Linked DNA regions of Homo sapiens: region 2 is linked to region 1. The links come from fine-mapping of genetic effects on gene expression. A gene starts in region 1. The other region holds a variant in brackets. All regions are shown on one strand. Distances are between the middles of the regions.

Region 1 (10,385 bases):
CCCAGCAACAGCAGAACACACATGCTTTTTAAGTCAACATGGTAAATATTTCAGGTTTACTTAAAACCATATTCTGGGCTATAAAACAAATCTCAACACATTTAAAAGGATTCAGTGTTCACCAACCACAGCAAGAGAAAGATAACTGAAACATTCCCAAATATTTGAAACTTACCTATAAACCAAAGAAAAAGTAAAGAATATTAGAAAGTATTCTGAACTTCTGCGGGCATGGTGGCTCACGCCTGTAATCCCAGCACTTTGGGAGGCCGGGGCAGGGGGATCACTTGAGGCCAGGAGTTCAAGACCAGCCTGGCCAACATGGCAAAACCCCATCTCTACAAAAAATACAGAGCGAGACTCTGTCTCAAAAAAAATTGTAAACACAGCATATCAGAAATTGTGGAATACTGGTAAAGCATAAATATTTAGGGAAAATTCTATAGTGCTTGATGTCTATCTTTAAAAAGAAAAGATTTCAAACTATAAAGTATGTGGACAACTGATTTTTGACAAAGACACAAAAGCAATTAGTGGAGAAAGGATCGTCTTTTCAACAAATGAACTTGAACAATTAAATATCCATAAGCAAAAAAATAAACTTCATCCATCCTTGCACCATATACTATACAAAAATCAACTCAAAATGGATCACAGACTTATATGTAAAACCTAAAATTATAAAACTTTTAGAAGAAAATGTAAGAAAACAACACAATTAAAAAGCAGGCAGAAGATTCAAACAGGTACTTCACCAAAAAAGATACACAGAGTACAAATAAACACATGAAAAGATGCTCATCATTAGGAATTAAGGAAGTCCAAATTATAATCACAATGAGCTATCATTACATACTTATTAGCATGGCTAAAATTAAGAAGACTGACCATACTAAGTGTTGGTGAGGTTGAGGAGAAATTGGACCTGGAATTATGTCTCATACACTGCTTGTGGTTATGTAAAATGGTAAAAAACTGCTTAGGAAAACAAATTGAAAGTTTCTTAAAAAGTTAAGCATACACCTACCGTATGATCCAGCCATGCCACTTGATATATGGTCTGGCTCTGTGTCCCCTCCTAAATCTGACCTTGAATTGCAATCCCCATAATCCCCACGTATCAAGGGCAAGACTAGGTGGAGGTAAGTGAATCACGGGGGTGGTTTCCCCCATGCTGTTCTCATGATAATGAGTGAGTCTCATGAGATCTGATAGTTTTATAAGCGTCTGGCATTTCCCCTGCTCGCACTTCTCCTTCCTGCCACCGTGTGAATAAGGTGCCTGCTTCCCCTTCCCCTTCTGCCATGATTGTAAGTCTCCTGAGGCCTCCCCAGCCATACTGAACTGAGAGTCAATTAAACCTCTTTCCTTCATAAATTACCCAGTCTCAGGTATTTCCTTATAGCAGTATGAGAATGGACTAACACACCACTCTAGGTATTCACCCAAGGAAAAACAAAGTATATGTCCATACACACTTGTATACAAAAGTTCACAACAGCTTTATCTGTAATAAGCCTTAAACAACTCCAACATTCATCAACAGGTAAAAAATAAATTGTGGTATATACATATAATGGAATACCATTCAGCAATAAAAAAAAAAAAAAAAGCCACTGATATACACAACATGGATGAATCTCAAAATAATTATGCTGTATAAAAGAGCCAGACCAAAAAAAGCATATGAGCACATTCATATAAAACTCTAGAATACATACTAATCTGTAGTGACAGAAAGCAGATCAGTGGTTGCCTGGAGGGGATGGAGGAATGGAGAGGCAAGAGGAAGAGACTACCAAGGACCATAAAGAAACTTTCAGGGGTGATGGGTATGCGCTGTATCCTGATTACAGTGACAGCTTAATCTGCGTACACATCCGTCAAAGTTTATTGGCTGGGTGCGGTGACTCACTCCTATAATCCCAGCACTTTGGGAGGCCGAGGAGGATGGATCATTTGAGGTCAGCAGTTCAAGACCAGCCTCGCCAACAGGGTAAAACCCTGTCTCCACTAAAAATATAAAAATTCGCAGGGATTGGTGGCTCACACCTGTACTCCCAGCTACTCTGGACGCTATGGCAGGAGAATCACTTGAGCCCTCGAGGCGGAGATTGCAGTGAGCTGAGATCGCACCACTGTACTCCAGCCTAGGTGATAGAGACTCCATCTCAAAAAAAAAAAAAAAATCAATGTCAATGATACTTCAAAACAATATGCAGTTTTTTGGTGTTAATTATACCTCAATAAAGTTTTAAATAAAATGACTGAAACAATGAATAGCCATTGACAATTTTTAAGAAAATGAGTACAATTAAGTCTGTATTTCCGGAAAAAAAGGTAACACGGGTGGCAATGTAGAGGACAGAAGGGAGGTGAAAGAGACTAAAACAAGGATTTTAATCAGGAAGCTATTGCTAAAGTCCAGGTAATAAAACAAGAAAGATTACATAGGTCATTTAATGTCTTTTGGCCTCTATTTTCTTAACTGTAAAATAAGGGTACTACCTACATCACAGGGTTATTGTGAAGATCAAATAGAATACTATATATGAAAATGCTTTTGAGCTATAGAATAAAATACAGATATTAAAACACTATGATTAATACTGCAATTACAGACATATAATTATTTATTGTCCTTTCCTTCTAATATTATCATGGTATATCAGTGGTCTTCTAACTCCTAACCTGCTGTCAAATATATGGCCAGAGCTCTCTTTAGGTAGGTAAGTATCAGAACTTTCCCGGCCTACATGTGTATAGGAATACATTCATAAGAGCTACGTATTTAGTCCGAATCTGTTGAGAGCTCAAATCCTCCAGCCTCAAAGACAGAAGTTTAGCATTTATAGCCCCTGGGATCTCATTCCCTATATCATATATGGGTGTGATTACAGACAGGAGATAAAGCCTTTCCCCAGAGTGAAGGACTGAACCGTTTTTAAAACATTCATTCACCATCTCCTCACCCAACAGTCTTCAGAGTTTTGTTTCCAGCCTCATACCTCATCCATTGACATATCCCATACTCTGCAAATTTCATTCTCCATTTCTTCATCAAGCTCCGTCAGCTGCTCCTCATCATCTGAGCTAGATTTGGTGTTTTCAGGGCTAACAATCTTCAGAAACACAAAGAAAGAAAACATGAATAAAAGTTGTCTACAATACTAACCAGGTACCCAAATACAGCAGGTGATCAAATAACATTTCCTCGTAACGCTGATGAGAAAAAAATTTGATTCCTGGCCAGGGCCACTGTCTGTGTGGAGTTTGCATGTTCTCCCCAAGAGTGCATGAGTCTGTTCCAGGTACTTTAGTTTCCTCCTACATCCCCCAAATTTGCACATTAGCACAACGGGTATCTAAATGGTCCCAATCTGAGTGAGTGTGGGTGTGTGTGTACCTGTGATGGGATGGCATCCTGTCCAGGGCTGGTTTCTGCCTTGCACCTTGAACTGCTGGTACAGGCTCCAGCCACCCTCAACCCTGAACCAGAGCAAGTGGGTTGGGAAATGGATGAATACAAATTATTATAAAACAAAAATCTGTAAAGAAGACAATAACCATAGAGATGCGTGACAATAATTATGTGGTAGGAAAGTGCTCAGTAAGCCTGCCTTATTTGTTATTGTTTTTGGACTGTACAGTAGTAAGAGGTGATCATTTTTGCTTTGTAAACATTTATTCCTTGATTTAACACAATCAAAGAATAAAGGTTGTAGTGATAATCACTACAACCACCATCACTCACTAACTCACCAAAACTGGGTGAATAATTATCTTGTTTTTATTAACCTTTCCTAAACGTATTATAGCTCACATTTATCTCAATGTTTAATATTAGAAGTGTTTTAGGTCCTCATTTAGAAGTTTGGTGATGTTCTTGTGTCCAGAAATATGCCACAGGGACTTAACTCTTGTTTATATCAATTAGCTATGGTAAAATTGGTTTCATTATCAGTAATTTTGCTTACAGTCACAATTTCCAAGAACCTACTGATGTTAAGTGAGCACTTACTTTAATATTAACCCATAATCGTTTAGAAGTCACAAAGAGGCTATCAGCAAAGTATCTTCTCTTGCAAAAATCTTCTTTTAAAAATGTAGTACCTTGGGTAGATCTACTCTTTCAACATTCACAAAGTAAATACTGTTGCTAGGCACTGGGGTAGATATACAAAGACAAGTAAGATATAATCCCTTACATTTAAGCTTTTTTTTTTTTTTAACTTTTAGGATCTAGTGGGGAAAGACATGTAAAGGGATAGTCATATTAGAAAAGGCAAAGTGATTCAACTGAATTGTGGACAAAGAGTTCTGGTAGCAAAAACGATGGACCAATGACCTATTCCTAGGAGAAGATGGGGAACCTTCCCTTAGGTGCTGATATTTAAGCTAAATTTTAAAGGAAGAATAGTAGTTTGTCATGTGAAGAAGGAGAGAAGTGAGTATTCAGAGGAAAGCACAAGAGTTCAGAGTTAAGAAAGGGCCTAGCATGTTTGGGGATGGTGAACAGTTCAGAGTTGATGGAACACAGTGTATCATGAGAAGATGAGGCTGGAAAATGTACAAACAGCCCTGGATTCCAAACTTCAAGAAACATGCATTTTTCTCCCAGGCAAAAAGAACTAAGAGCAGTATCATGAATAGCCCTGTCTTTAAAGAAGATTATTCTGGCAGCTGTGTAGAAAATTGACTGGAGAGGATAGACAATAGGAGGAGAGGAACCAATTAGGGAAACATGGGGGGAAGAAAACACATTTACTGACAGCCTCCTATAAGCCAAACACCATGCTAAGCACTCTGTTGCCATTATAATCTCACTTAACCTACACAATAACCTTATATATAATATAAATATTATAATCCCATTTTATAGAAATTAAGGGACAAATAGAGGTTCTGAGCCGTTAGGTGACCTGCAGCTAGTGGGTAAGGAAGCTGCGTTTTTTGTTTTTTTGAGACAGGGTCTTACTCCGTCCCCCAGCCTGGAGTGCAGAAGCTGGATCATAGCTCACTGCAGCCTCCAACTTCAGGCTCAAGCGATCCTCCAGCCTCAGCCTCCTGAGTCGCTGGGACTACAGGCGTGCACCGTCACGACCGGCTTTTTTTTTTTTTTTTTTTTAAGTTTGTAGAAACCAGGTCTATGTTGCCCAGGCTGGTCTCAAACTCCTGGCTCAAGCGATCCTTCCGCCTCGGCCTCCCAAAGTGTTGGGATTACAGAGGTGAGCCACCGCGCCTGGTCAGAAGCCACGTTTTTAATATAAAAGTTGTATAACCCTAAAGTCACCATTTATTCTATTACAACGATAGTCCATGAAATACATAAATTAAGGACCTGGGCTTCAGAAATGACAGTGGGGATGGGGAGCAAAACCCGAGGAATGCAGTTACACGATCATGTATTTTTGGAGAACTTGGGAAAGCAAAATAGAACGGCAAGTATTTCAGCATCCCTACCATTATACTTCCCTTTGTGTCGAGAGACCCCGAGGGGGCCCAGATAGTTTTGGGGTCCGCAGCGGCCGGCGAAACGCAAGGAGCAAGGTCCCGCAGCGCACGCCTGGGGAGGGGTCTTTGTGGGGATGGCGGCTCCCGGGGCAGGAGGATTCGCCAGAGGCGGAGCCCCGGTGCCTGGGGGATGTAGGGACACCCCACGCGTGGCGCGAGTTTCCACACCTGGATGAGTCCGCTGAGGACGCCGAAGAGCCAGTGTTTGCTGTAGACCGTGCTCCCTATGCAGTCTCCACCGGCCACCTCCTCCTCCTCCTCCTTGTCGCGACCCGGCGGCGGCGGCGAGGGGTTGCGGTCCATGACTTTGTCGCGTCCCGCGCTTGAAGGCCGTGCCGGAAGCTGCGGAGGAGACGACCGGCGCCCTAGTGCCAGAGCGCCCGGCGTACCCGGTGGGACTCCCCCTACAGCGCCATCTGCTGTTCGGAGCCTGGCCAGCTGCCAAGGCGGCTTGACCTCCCCCACCCCATCCTATCGAGGACCCTGGCACGAACATACTCATAATTATTTGTCACCCTCACTGAATCAGGTGTTCCATTTCTCCAGGAGCTCTTAGACTGATTGAAGAAGGAAGGGTGGGGAGCAGTGAGGAAGCCTCAGGAACAGATGTGAATCTCAAAGCTAGCGGACTTATTCTATTCGCCTTCTGATCTATGTTGCCCAGGCTGGTCTCGAACTTCTGGCTCAAGCAATCCTTCTGCCTCGGCCTCCCAAAGTGTTGGGATTACAAACGTGAGCCACCGCGCCTGGTCAGAAGCCACTTTTTTTATATAAAAGTTGTATAACCCTAATAATATAATCCTCTGATCTCTGGCCACTGTTGCCATTCCTAAAAATATCCGTAGGGGAAGCTGGATGGCTTGTGAGGGATTCCAGGGATCCAAAGTGATTCGAAAAACTAAAGAGGCACCATTTGTCCCCATTGGAATGGCAGGTTTTGCAGTAGTTGCTGCATACGGATTATACAAATTGAAAAGCAGGGGAAATACTAAAATATCACGTCACCTGATCCACATGCGTGTGGCAGTCCAGCTTTGTTGTAGGAGCAATGACTGTTGGTATGGGCTATTCCATGTATCCGGATTTCTATGCAAAACTTAAACCTTAGAAGAAGAGATGTTGTCTTTGTCTTGTTGGAGGAGCTTGACTCATTAATGAGTCATCTCATTATTGAAGTTACATGTTTATGTTGAACATAAATTATTTGGGTAGGTTCAGATGATACTACGGTATTTTGAATAGTCGCTTCCTTTCGTGTAGGCTTGATTTGCCTGGTGACCAAATTATTAGTGACTAGTTCACTAACTAGATCATTCCGGGGAGCCAAGTTAACACACAAGAAACACGTCACCTAAATGCGCTTGATGGTGTTAAAATGTCCAACTTCTTAAACTGTTAAGATGAAATTAATACTAAGGAAGATAGCAGGCCAATCCTGAAGTACTCCCAGTTTGCTGCAGAATCTTGCATGTTTCGAATGTTAAGAGTCCAATTTACTCCAGTTAATTTAACTTTTTTTCTGTCTGTCTTGTGGACTGGTTGGCTCTTTTAGAACTCTTTAAAAAAAAGTGCATGAAATATAACTTGTAAAGCCTCCTACAACTGACAGTATTGTGTGCGTGTGTTTAAACCGAATCTAGAAACCTTACAACAGACCTGCATAGTATTAGTATTGATTAAAGAACCACAATTGTAAACATGAGAAAACCTTAATTATGGATTTCAGTTTAGCACTTTTGTAATTGCAGAATTACATTTTTGCTGCTGTTATATTAGAAGAATTTTTCAGTGTCATCTTGAAATAGAAATGTGTATTTTAAGCACCCATGCAAAGGTAAATGAAAAACACTTCTTTCTCCATAAGAATCGTAAACATTAAACTAAAAAAATTACCTATGATGGAATTGATTTACAAGTACCCACTTTGATTTAATGGAATTAAATTTATAGATGATATAAGCTACTTCCACATGAAATTTCAAAAATATCAATATAATGACCAAACAGGAATGGAGACATGAAATTATTTATTTATTTATTTATTTTATTTATTTTGAGACGGAGTCTCGCTGTCGCCCAGGCTGGAGTGCAGTGGCGCGATCTCGGCTCACTGCAGGCTCCGCCCCTTGGGGTTCCCGTCATTCTCCTGCCTCAGCCTTCAGAGTAGCTGGGACTACAGGCTCCCGCCACCTCGCCCGGCTAATTTTTTTTTTGTATTTTTAGTAGGGACGGGGTTTCACCGTGTTAGCCAGGATGGTCTCGATCTCCTGACCTCGTGATCCGCCCGCCTCGGCCTACCAAAGTGCTGGGATTACAGGCGCGGGCCACCGCGCCCGGCCGAAATTATTTAAAATAAAATGTCCACATGAATATTTTAAATACTCAGTCATAACTATATTAGAAAACATAATGAAGGTGTCCAATGTTTGCCTAGAATTACTGTGATACTTACGTCAAAGTCAAACAAAACATAGAGATGAATCTCTAAATTTAAAGCAATTGATTTAGAAAGTAAGAATTACAATTCAGGGCATACACACAGATGAGACAGGTGGGCGTCTTCAATATATCTGAAGTACAAAGAGAAGGTTGGGGCTTTTATAAAAAGGAGAAATGTTACACGTTGTTTTGAAAGAAATTTTATTGGTTTTAGTAAGGTTTGGGGGAGCTTGCAAGCTAGGATTGGTGAGAGATGGCAGCAGGTAAAATTAGTCTTAGAGTCACAGTAGGTTGTTTCAGCAGTTGTTAGATAAAACTGGTCTCCGTTTACAAGAGGCAGTTTCAGCAGTCAGGCTTGCAGAGAGTTACCTTTTTGGAGACAGAAGGTCTCCCTGTGTTGCTCAGGCTGGTCTCCAACTCCTGATCTCAAGTGATCCTCCCACCTCAGCCTCCAAAAGTGTTAAGATTACAGGCATGAGCAACCATACCCAGCTCATTTCTTTTATTTATTTTATTTTAATTAATTAATGTATTTATTTATCTTTTGAGATGGAGTCTCGCTCTGTCGCCCAGGCTGGAGTGCAGTGGCACGATCTCGGCTCACCGCAAGCTCCGCCTCCCGGGTTCACACCATTCTCCTGCCTCAGCCTCCCGAGTAGCTGGGACTACAAGTGCCCACCACCACGCCTGGCTAATATTCTTTGTATTTTTAGTAGAGACGGGGTTTCACCATGCTGGCCAGGATGGTCTCGATCTCCTGACCTCGTGATCCACCGCCTCGGCCTCCCAACTCATTTCTTTTATCATATACACACATATAGGTTATGTTTACCAACCATCATATTGATGTGAGTCCACAATTCAATACTTGCTGGTTTATGATATATAATTTATGTTAAATTTTGACATATACTCATGGTATATTATTTGTTTTATTCTTAATAAAATAAAAATGAGTTTTAAAAAGAAGAGGCCAGGACTGGGCGCGATGGCTCATGCCTATAATCCTAGCACTTTGGGAGGCTGAGGTGGGCTGATCACTTGAGGTCAGGAGTTCAAGACCAGCCTGGAAAACATGGAGAAACCTGGTCTCTACAAAAAATATGAAAATTAGCCAGGCATGGTTGCGCACACCTGTATTCCCAGCTGGGAAGATGGCTTGAGCCTGGGAGGTGGATGTTGCAGTGAGCTGAAATCGCACCGGTGCACTCCAGCCTGGGTGACAGAGTGAGATCCTGTCTCAAAAAAAAAAAAAAAAAAGAAAGAGGCCAGTCTAAAATTCATTTGTAAGTTGTTGGCATTACTGAGATAACCTCCCAATGTCTTCTCAACTTTTATTTGAGTCTGATACTCACAGCTAGGCTCCATGAGTTTTGTTTTTTTTCTTTTCTCTTTGGATCTCAGGTGCACAGAATTGGATTAATCATAATCCTTAGTTATTACACACTCTCCAATGTCATCAGTGTGCTAATCAAACAGAATTACATTTTATAACCAGAAAGCAGGTTTTTTTTCCTTTCTTTTTTTTTGTCCCAATATCTCTCACTTTGATCCTGAACACAAGTCAATTCATGCCTTCCCTAGTTACTCAAAGGTTATTGAAAGTACTGTACAGGCCAGGTACGGTGTTCTCATGCCTGTAATCTCAGCATTTTGGGAGGCTAAGGTGGGAGGATCACTTGAGCCCAGGAGTTCAAGACCAACCTGGGCAACATAGTAAGACCCTGTCTCTACAAATGTTCTTTTTAAAATTAGCCAGGTGTGGTGGGGAGCACCTGTAGTCCCAGCTACTCAGGAGGTTGAGGTGGGAGGGTAGCTTGAGCCCAAGAAGTTGAGACTGCAGTGAGTGGTGATCATGCCACTGCACTCCAACCTGGGCAACAGAGCAAGACTCTGTCTCAAATAACAAAACAAAACAAAACAAACAGTGTTATACAGGTAGTAATTTAAAGCCACAGGTTTGATGGCATTTAGTTTATCTCAAAATGGTAACTAGAAAGTCCAGGTCCAAGTCATGATTTGAAGCTTCCAATTCATTTAAAATGAAAATTTCTCTCCCCTTTCCTAGTTAAGCCCACTATAGATGGGTACTTCAGTCTGGAGGGGGGTGATGACTTTGTTTCCTTCCCTGCTTCCTCCTCCCACAGATAGACAGCTGCTCTTTCTGACCTCTCCCCGATTAGGGGGGAAGGATTGGAAGTGAGAGGGGAGGGAAAGGAAAATTCTTACTTGACTGGTGTTTTCATAAGATGGTTTCATGTTCTTTGGGCCCAGCAGGTGTTTGAAGCTGATTCTGTGTATGTGTGTTGTGGATTCTTCACATATACCACCTCCATCGCTGGAGACGCCTCTCCACAGCTCCCTTGAATAGCGATGCAACCTCCTCCATCTTGCTGGTTTTTTCTCAGCTCCTTATTGCTCCTCACACACAC
Region 2 (10,385 bases), 37 kb before region 1:
TTAATACCATGCTAATATACAAACTGAGAGTTTAAAATGCACGCTAATTGTCTTGTGACTGGAGATTTAGGTAAAAAGAATAGTTTTGGACATCACAATGTGATTTATGTGTATGGTTAAGAAAGATTAGGGAAATTTTTCTTCAGGGAAAAATTAGGCCCAAGGTAAAAGTTGTGCTTACTATTCTTCAGCTATATATTGTGTGCATGCAGCAAACTAAAGGTTTTTCTGATATCAATCTCTAAAATTTATATAGTGCTTTACATTTTTCAAAGTACTTTTATTTATATTGTTTACTTTGGTCATTAAAGTAACTGAGACTCAGATGGTTCGGTGACTTATCTAAAGTTACACGGCTTGTAAATGGCATAACATGAACTAGAAACCACCTGTTCTGTCTCTCAGCTCTGTGTGGTTTTACTCATCATGCTACCTCTTCTAAGAGGAAACGTGATTTGAACTCCAGTGAATGAATATGTACATGTTTAGCTTAGATTTTATCATTTACTTGAAGGAGATCCCTGTAACAAGCGACAACCATTTTCCAGAAACCACAGTTGCCGTGGGAACGCTCCCTAAGCTTACTTCTGTCTATGGCATTGTAAATATTTGTTCCTTTGTTTCTCTCCTTGGCCATAAACTCTTTCAGGGCAGGAACTGTGCCTTTCACCTCTACGGCAGGATCCAGCACAGTGCCTATTACAGAGAAGGCTGTTAATAAGTAATTATCCAATACATGCTTGTTGAGAAGGAATATATGAATACAAAAATGAAGCTGGGCATGGTGGCGGGCACCTTTAGTCCCAGCTACTTGGAAGGATGAGGCACGAAAATCACTTAAGCCCACGAGGCGGACGTTGCAGTGAGTGGAGATCGTGCCACTGCACTCCAGCCTGGGCAACAGATTGAGACTCCGTCTCAAACACAAAAAGAAAAAAGCAAGTCTATGTGAGATGTGAGAGAAATGCAAGACATGATAATAAAAACAAAATGCTGTCTGTAATCCTTAATCATGAAGGTCAAAGCTCCATTTATGCCTCCACGCGTGTGAAACAGAGGCTGCTTCTTTAAGACCTCAGATGTTAGAAGCCATATGGCATTCTATCCATGTTCAAATTGAAATTAATTTGATGAAGCAAAGGGATGGAGGAGAGAGGTTAGGCCGGGACATAATCTCTTAAGTCCTCAAGATCCAGATCTACTAAATCTCCCTGCAAAAATCATAGTAATCTTCACAACATGACATCTTCAGTGAGCTCTCATATCAGATGACACCCAAATGGCTTTACGGGAAGAGTGGTGCACAAGTCTGTTTACACACAGCATTACACAAATTTCATTCCAAGTCCCCTTCAATTCTCATTACACTTTTTAAAATTACAATTGGAAACCCTGTTTATCACTTGAACTTCTCTGCTTCAACACATTGCCTCATGAAGTGTTGGCTTGTGGCCATTTCAAACACACTGAGCAAAATGGCCCAACAAGTATCGATCACGACAAAGCCTTTCATTTGCTGTGCATTACAGCTTGCCAAAAGTCACACAGTAAGTGGCAGAGGGGGAACAGAACCTAAGGCCTCACTTATCCTTGGAAACATTTTACCTCAATGTACCACAACATTTCAAAAAGTAGATTGAGGAACCCAAAGATATATTTCATTTTTCAGTTCCTTCAGGTTTTTAAGACTTCATTAAGTTTGGGTTCTGAATCATATAGAAACCTCCCAATCCTTTAGTGATAATTATGAAAGCACTCAATACCATCTGGAAGAGCCAAGACATTCTAAGACTAGGACTCGTGATTTACATTAAAGACAGCGTGAATGGTGCCCCCCGGAGTTGTACCATGCAGCATTCCTGCTCAAGTTAATAACGCAAACTGTGCAAAAATGCCATTAATATGGAAACACAGAATGGTCTGAATCATTAGGAAGTGCTGGCTACTCAGATTTTGGAGTGAGGAAAACTATCTTATAGCATGAGAATCAACTGTGCTTGGGGAAATTGGCCCCGTTACTTGGGCACACTTGATTTCCCTCAATGTCTGCTGTCTTAATGTTTGCTTTGTGTTGTTCAAAGAGGCATTATCGCCCTGCTCATACAGTGCCACTAGCCATTTCTCCAACAAGTTAAACAGCATTTGTTGAGGCTGCAGAAAGCAAAGCCAGTACCATTTGTCAAATTAATGACCTCTGAAGCTTTTATGAAAGGGTATGATAAGTCTACATCAGGGGAAATGAGCAAACGTGATGATTAACCTCCCTTCTTTGTTTCTCCAACTGAGCTTAAGGTACTGTGACCGAGCTTTCATGGAAATCAGGAAGATTCTGAGAGAATCCAAATGTGACCATCTGGGAGAGTTAAGAGAAGAAAATACACCATGTGGAGAGACAAGGACTGCCACTCCTGGAGTTCCAAATGGACAGAAGGAGAGAGCTTCCTCGCATCTTTGGGAAAATCCTATCTACATAGCATAAATGCCCCATACTCCACCCTGGAAGAGGCTAATCAGGGGCACCTCCTCATGGGTGCCAGATATTAGAAGATTTTACAGGCTCCATTGCGGCAGAAGGTAATCAAAAAGGCCCAAGCCCCACCCTACAGAGAGCAGCAGCATGACCTTAAACTGCCTTTGCTGGTCACTTGGAGAGGGAGGGTCCATTTTCCTCAGTGGGCAACAAAGCCGCTGATAATCAGGTGCACACATGACGTGGATGTAACCTGCTGAGGAAGTGTCTGATATACCAAAGGAGCCAGGACTCACAACAAGCCTGGCCAGGAAAAAGAAGCCTCAGAGAACCCCAGAGCAGCCTCTACTTTGTAGATGATATGAGTAAATACAACGCAGACAGCCACTTAGCAAGTTCAGAGCCACTTCCAAACGACGCTGAGGGCCTGGTGTCAGCTCCTGCACAGCAGGCTCCATTCTCTCCCCTTCAGGCTGTGTGCATGTTCACTCCAGTGAGTCACAAAGACACATTCCCAGGTGCGCACCTGGCCAAAAGCACAGAAGAGGAAGTCGCACATGTGACCATCCTCTGCCAACCAGCCCACGTGTACAGCAGAAATCAGTATTGTTTGCCTCTGTAATAAAATCATTGCATAAATTTTGTAGAGCTTTGAATCGGCCTCGTAAGTGTCACCAGGCAACTCTTCCAAGAAGGGTAGGGGGATGGTGAGGTAGAGAACTCCAGGGACACAGAAAAGGACCATGGTGTGTTTCTTGCAAAGCCCTTGTGCTGGAAATGCTATGAAGGCAAAAACTTTATGCTGACCATGAAACCCAATCAATATAACACAAAATTCAGGCCAGGTACAATGGCTCACACCTGTAATTCCAGCATTTTGGGAAGCCAAGGCGGGCAGATTGCTTTAGCTCAGGAGTTCGAGACAAGCCTGGGCAAACATGGCGAAACCCCGTCTCTATAGAAAATACAAAAAAAGGCCAGGAGTAGTGGCTCATGCCTGTAATCCCAGCACTTTGGGAGGCCGAGGCAGGCAGATCACCTGAGGTCAGGAGTTCAAGACTAGCCTGGCCAGCATGGTGAAACCCTGTCTCTACTAAAAAATACAAAAATTAGCCAGGTGTAGTGGTGGGTACCTGTAATCTCAGCTACTTGGGAGGCTGCGGCAGGAGAATCGCTTGAACCTGGGAGTGGGAGGTTGCAGGGAGCCAAGATCACACCACTGCACTCCAGCCTGGGCAACAAGAGTGAAACTCCATCTAAAAAAAAGAAAAAAAAAGGAAAAGAAAATACTAAAAAATAGCCAGGTGTGGTGGTGCACGCCTGTGGTCCCAGCTACTTGGGAGGCTGAGGTGGGAGAATCACTTGAGTCTGGGGTGCAGAGGCTGCAGTGAGCTGAGATCATGCCACTGCACTCCAGCCTGGGCAACAGAGCAAGACTGTGTCTCAAAAAAGAAAAAAAATCCTCGATAAAACTACAGAACCTTGCACTTGTAGCAACCAATGCTTCCACTCCACACTGGAGTTCTCTCTGAAAGCATTGCAAAAATCCCTGTTAAGGTCATGGGCCAAAACATAAGGGAGACAAAACCACAAAGGGTGACATCAGTTGCTTGTAATGGTTTAGCTGCCATGTGGTGGTAGCCATAAGACGGCTGCTAATCTGTATCTTCAGCCAAATTACACTTCTGAAAACCTTGTGCTCAATAAGCAACCAGCTGACTGGACTAAGACCACCACAAGGATGGAGAAGGGCAGATTCAGATTTTATGGTACCTGAAAATCATTCAAGTTGGGGGCCTTGTCCAATAAAAATAGTATAAAATTTCACATTCAAAATTGCTAGGCACCTCCCAGAGTCGTGGAAGGAGACCACGTGACCAAGTGAGGGGCCATTAAACCCATGGTTCCCAAACTTTGCCATACAGTAGAACCACTTGGGGAGCTTTTAAAAAGTCCTGGTGCCCAGTTCGCACCCCATATCAATTGAATCAGAATGTCTGGGGGTAGAAACCAGGCACTGGCATTTTTAAAGAGCCTGTGGTGATTCCAATCTGCATGAAAGTTTGGGAACCACTACCTTAAGGGTTAAGCCTTATTGACGTTAAGTCAGCCTCCAGCTAGGGAACATAGTTTTCATTCACTTATTTAACTAACATTTGTGGAGCAA[C/T]TGCCCTATGTCAAGCACTGTATCCCCCAGCATTTAGTGCTGTGCCTGACATGGAGCTGGCCATCAGCAAACGCTTGCTGAATATAAAAATGAATATGTTCAACAGTGTCTCCCGTTTCACATTGGAGATGGGTTGTAGACTGGATGTGGAATTCCAGTTTATCTTTCTCTTTAGATGTGTCAGCATTTTAAAGGAATACTTTAGGCTTACCCCAGGATAGACATGCTTCATGGCTTCACCATACATATTAGGTGCTCCCTGTAGATTCTGGATATAAAAGAAGTCAGTCAGCAAGCCTACTGAAATATAATGAAATCTCTTTTTTATCTACCATCCTGCTCTTTGTTTTCTTGAAAATGGATCCATGTATGTGGAAGAATATTGAGTATATCTAACTATAGGGATTCCAAAAGTCTCTAAGGATTCTTATTTTATCTCCCTTATCTATCTTACCTATCATAACTTCAGCAAATTCATCTCCTCCTACTCTTCCCATATTGTAGGGTCTAGGTCTCAAAATTCAACTCATACTATTGCTCAGATGCAGAGAGAAAGGTAACAGCTTCATTTTGCCTGTGACAAATCTGCTATTTCTCTGGAGCCCCCATCTGTTAGTAGCAGGAAAATTAACAAACTGAAGACCCAATTCAGTTTCAATTTACTCTGGTCCAATAACTTAAATAGAGACTTTAAGAATTGCCCAGTCCTTAGTGGGGCATGGTGGCGGGTGCCTTTAATCCCAGCTACTTGGGAGGCTGGGGTGGGAGAATTGCTTGAACCTGGGAGGTCGAGGCTACAGTGAGCCGAGATTGTGCCACTGCACTCTAGCCTGGGTGACAGAGTGAGCCTCCGTCTAAAAAAAAAAAAAAAATTGCCCAGTCTTTAATTAAAAAAAAAAAAAAAGATTCAGTGCTTAAATAGCTTCCTCTTAAGACGGAGCCCAACTTTATGAAAGAGAGGTACACCTGTGAGACCTCACGGTAGGTGTGGAGAGGATTATGTTCTTTCCAACTCTAGCCTCTTGGTTTCCAACATGCTGATTGCTTCACTGTTGTGTGAGGCTGTGTCGTGAAGCTAATGTAATTTAGGGATTTTGTTTTTCTTGGCCTGGGTAAGACTCCACAGTACTCCCTGAGTGAGTAGGCCTCATCACAGTTCCCACTGGCAACAAACCTTTGAGCCTCTCACATATACATCATTCCTCTAGTCTCTGCTGTGGCACAATCGTTCCCTGCCATGCAGGTGTGTTGGCATGTCCACTAGCTCTCAACTCAGCATTGATATTGCATGGGAACTTCAGGAATCACAGGAAAGCTAAAATTCAGAACCTCCCTCTACAGGTGAGATATGGCCAAGCCCTGGGTTGGAATGAGAGTGGTCTGAGTGATTTCCTTGTTAAGTCCCAAAAGAGGAGTGGGTGGAAGCATTTATCTGCTGTCCTTAATTGTCATGGAGGGTGGGCAGTGGTGGAAGGGTGCTGTTGAGCCTGCATATAAACTACAGGGAGATATTCTCTCACTAAATATATACATCACTTATAGTTGTGTAATCCTCAAGAGACCCCCACATCTCCGACTAGCATAGAAGTTGGAAGAGTGAAAGTACATAGCTTCAGGAGAAGTGAGATGGACCTTGAACTTTCAGAAACTGATGGAATGAACAGCTATTAACTAGCCCCCTTGTCTTCCTCCTATCTTGAATTGTCACCTCCTTAGTCCCACTAACTGAGCACAGTGCTTAACACACAATAAGTTCAAATCACAATATACTTTGGAATGAATGAATGAATGAGAAGTGTTAATCTACAATTCAGTTTCTCTCTTACGGGTTCAATAAGCTTCAACAAAGCACTTGGTGATCACATATTGGAAATTCATCTTTGACTGAAGACATGACACTCTCAATAGAACCTATGTTCTATTAACATCCCATTTCTCCCAGGGAGGGCCACATCGTCCGCCCACTGAAACTCTCCAAGGTCCAATAGCAATCTTACTGGAGTGCAGTTTGAGAGAACTGGTCAAGAGTGATGATAGGGGCTTTACAAAGAAAAAATTGAGCTCAAATTTTAGAGCAAGAAAAAATGGATTTTAACCAAAGATAAGTATTCCCAAACTCTACGATGTGGCAAATAAGCTGATGGTAGCTCCTCTGTATTAGACACAGACACAGATAAAAATCAGTAGACCAATCCAATTCTTCTACTAACAATCACATCAACTACCAAACTTCTCTTCTGCTCCTTCTGCACTTGTTTCCAGAACCGACGTCCACTCCCCGGGACAACCCGCCACATGTACACTGGCTCCGCTGCCCAGTGTTTCTGTTGTTTGGAATTATTTAGGCAGAGCTGTAACCCCTTTCCCATAACTACCCCCTCCCCACCATCCAATTGCTTTCTTCTGGTTCTTTTTATCTACAATTTCAAAAGAAACATTTTGGCTCCCATTGGCAACAAATCCTTGAATCTCTTTCTCATCATTTCTCTAGATGAGAGGCTTAAAGGGGAAATAAGACAGGAAGAATTTTTTTTTCTTTTTCAATTAACTTCAATTTCTTTCAAGTCTAAGTAAACTCTGGCCCCAGAACAACCAGGATGATATAATTATGGAAACTATTAATCTCTCCATCAAAGGAGAGCCAGCTCATGGTTACGGAGCAGTTGGCACGTTCCTCCAAAGGGTTTCTGCAGCATGATGTTCCTGGTTTCCCTCGGAGTCACAAATGCTCAGGGTACACCTTTTAGCAAGTAGGCAACTTCCTAAGAAAATGAAATAATCCATGAGTACTTTGTGAGTTGTTCTGGGAAATTGGGCATTTTTCCTTAATTGCTCTAAAGAAATAGCCAACTCACACTAAAGCATGTTCAAACAGAATGAAAGAGAAAAATCTAACATTTTCAGATCAGTCAAGGCTCATCCAAAATTGTGAAATTTGGATCTTTAAAGACCAGTCAGATATCACTTGATGTGAGCAACGAACAAAGGGGTGCATCTGGAACAAGAAGTCTCCAAATTGCTTTGAATATTGAACATCATGGAAATGGCAACAATCTCTAGAGGTCACTTAGGACAAACAGAACAGTTATCTGGTTTGTTCAAACCTAAAATAAATATAAAAAGAAATTAGAGAATTTAATTTAGAGATTTTATTCCAGGGCATCAACAAACTTTTGTTCTTCCAATGACAACAGAGTACAGACTTCTCTGTGATGGGGGGCAGGGGCAGTGTTAAAGGATTTAGGAGTTTCCTCCAGAAATTCCTGCCAATTGGCTTATTCCTGGGTACAGATAGGAAAAGTCCAACACCAGTTGCATTTTGAAGGAAGCACATTCATAGATTGACAAAGGCCATCAGCCTTCCAAAATACAGCCCCCCAAAAGAACGAATTTGCAGAGATGCCAAATTCCTCAAATGGTTTAGGTTCAACAGGCACCACTCAAAACAAAACTACATGATCGTATGTTGAGTGACATAATAAAGCCATAGTATATGCATTTGCTTGAATTGTGGGCTGTGATTAATATATACAATCCTTACCCACTGACTGCTTTCAATGTATACTGCTTCCTGGAAGCAAGCCCATACTTCAGGAAGTCAGGCTTCTCCAAGGGAACGGGAAGCCTCTTTGTTCCTTCTTCCCACTATCCTGTTGTTGGAGCCTGCATGCACATTGGGCCTGAGCAGGAAAGTGTCACTTCTGTGAAGAGACTGTTCACAGAACTTTAATTTCTCTTGTAATCATATAAAGCCTGAATGGTAAGGGGGAAAACCCATAAAGGTCATTATAAACAGATCCCGTGATGTCAAAGGAAAAACAGCTGGAGAGAGGGAGTTTAATAAGCAGCCTTCTTTTATTACAACAGGCTTGACGTCATTGATCATTTATTATTTCCAACACTAAAACATAAAGCCATGTGCTACACTGTGGACCAGGATGAAAAGGATATGTGGACTTTTCTGAGTATTTTAATATCCTTTTATTGACAGTAGATAGAAGATCTGAACAAGGACTGGGAACAGGAAATGATTTTAGCGATTTCATTACAGTAATAGAGAAAAGCATTACCAATGGCAGCATTTGGCAGATGGTCTGGTAAGTCCTGAACCTCTAAACAGCCTGCAGGTCAACAAGCTCAATATTGATACAAGGTCAGTATGTAATTATGAGGTGTTCTAGCAAGCAGAATAGTTTTTATAAATATGGGCTGTAGCCTTGGCAGTGGAACACAGGAAGCTGGTGTTTAAAAGTTAATTTAGGACGGGTGCAGTGGCTCACTGCAGCCTGTAATCCCAGCACTTTGGGAGGCCGAGGTGGGTGGATTACTTTAGGTCAGGAGTTCGAGACCAGCCTGGCCAACATGGTGAAAACCCATCTCTACTAAAAGCACAAAAATTAGCTGGGCATGGTGGCGGGCTCCTGTAATCTCAGCTACTCGGGAGGCTGAGGCAGGAGAATCACTTGAACCCAGGAGGTGGAGGTTGCAGTGAGTTGAGATCGCACCACTGCACTCCAGCCTGGGTGACAGAGCGAGACTCCGTCTCAAAAAACAAGGAAAGGTGTTTAGAGGCAGCACAAAGTATACAATAAGACCACGACTAAAGAGTTCTTGATGCTCCAGTACAAATCAGATTTGCAATGAAATATCAAGCATGGTACATCTTTACTTAGTTTAGCTCTAGTGAAAAATAAACATGGCTGTAGAATTTTCAGAGTTTTGAGACTTTTCAGATCTCACTCAAGAAAACCTAAGAAGTGATCAGCCAATTCATTTTAACCAACATCAAACATCATTTTGGTGAGGCCCCCTTAGAAACAGATTTCCCTGGAACAAAACATTAGTGTTTGGAAGCTCCCTAATATGTGAGATTTGTACAGGCCTTTACAATTTCCAGTGTTAGTTTAATCTCATTAACACTTCAAGTAATCCTGCAGGGTAGGCAATTTAACCTCATCTCTACTCTATAGATGAGGATGCTCAGAAAAGCTAACTGACTTGGTCAAGGTCATACTGACCCTTGATCACCTTGATCAATGGTTTTCTTTTTCATTTTCACCACTAATGTGTGTTCTATTTCTGTTTGATATGATCTATTTCTGTTCAATATTCTATGTATTTTAACAAAATCAAAATCGTATTGCATATCCAATGTGTTGTTTCCCTTTTTAAAAAACATGCTTCCCATTATGCCATACCTGCTTGGTCAAGCATGGGTGTGAAATATAAGTTCCTTACAGGAAATATCCTTATAGGAAACCTTTCTGTAGAAGGCTATGATTTTGAGTGTCCAGCGCCAATTCATCACACGGAGCTACTTTTCCTAAGCCCTAGGTGGAGCAGTCATGTTCAGAGGTGAGAACAGTGGATCTGGTGTTCAGCTTCAAATGTACTATTTCCTTGTGAACTGTCACTTATAAGCTGTAAATCTCTCCCAATTTAGTCCAGTGTCTCTGTACAACCTGTCTCTTTCATCGACATTGTTAGCCCTTTAAATGTTTGTATTCCTTGGAGCTTTGTCCTAAGTCCTTAAGCTGTATCTCTAGCCCACTCTCTCACAGAGTTCCAAGTCTGTATGGAAATGGGACATCTCCATGTGGATGTCCAACAGGTATTCAAAATTGAACACGTCTTTTACCCACCTTTACCTGCAACTCTTCCTGGATTACTTCCCTATCATGATGAATGACGCCATCATCTATTCAGTCACCTAATCCAGAATTCTGGATTTAACTTCTCACTCTCCTT

Which allele goes with the higher level. Positions count from the first base shown, and alleles are read on the strand shown. Sizes are in standard deviations (SD) of each study's normalised expression.
With allele C in place of T in region 2, the expression in prostate of the gene that starts at base 5,858 in region 1 is higher (moderate effect, 0.50 SD a copy in GTEx).

Evidence for each region. PIP is the estimated chance that this variant, and not a neighbour inherited with it, causes the effect. A credible set is the group of variants that fine-mapping cannot tell apart.
Region 2: its variant is the best candidate, but not a certain one, in a credible set for the expression of SAAL1 in prostate (GTEx, PIP 0.68).

What each region holds. Positions count from the first base shown.
Region 1 is chr11:18,100,225-18,110,609 of GRCh38, forward strand. SAAL1 (serum amyloid A like 1) reads right to left here and starts at 5,858. Exons shown (of 12, transcript NM_138421.3): 1 at 5,683-5,858; 2 at 3,009-3,122. The coding sequence starts at 5,817. It also overlaps the pseudogene HIGD1AP5. RefSeq lists enhancers at 5,604-5,863, 6,014-6,063.
Region 2 is chr11:18,062,762-18,073,146 of GRCh38, forward strand. No RefSeq gene overlaps it. Among named protein-coding and RNA genes, the nearest start is that of TPH1, 22 kb to the left of the region's middle. The variant C/T (reference allele first, on the strand shown) is at 4,638.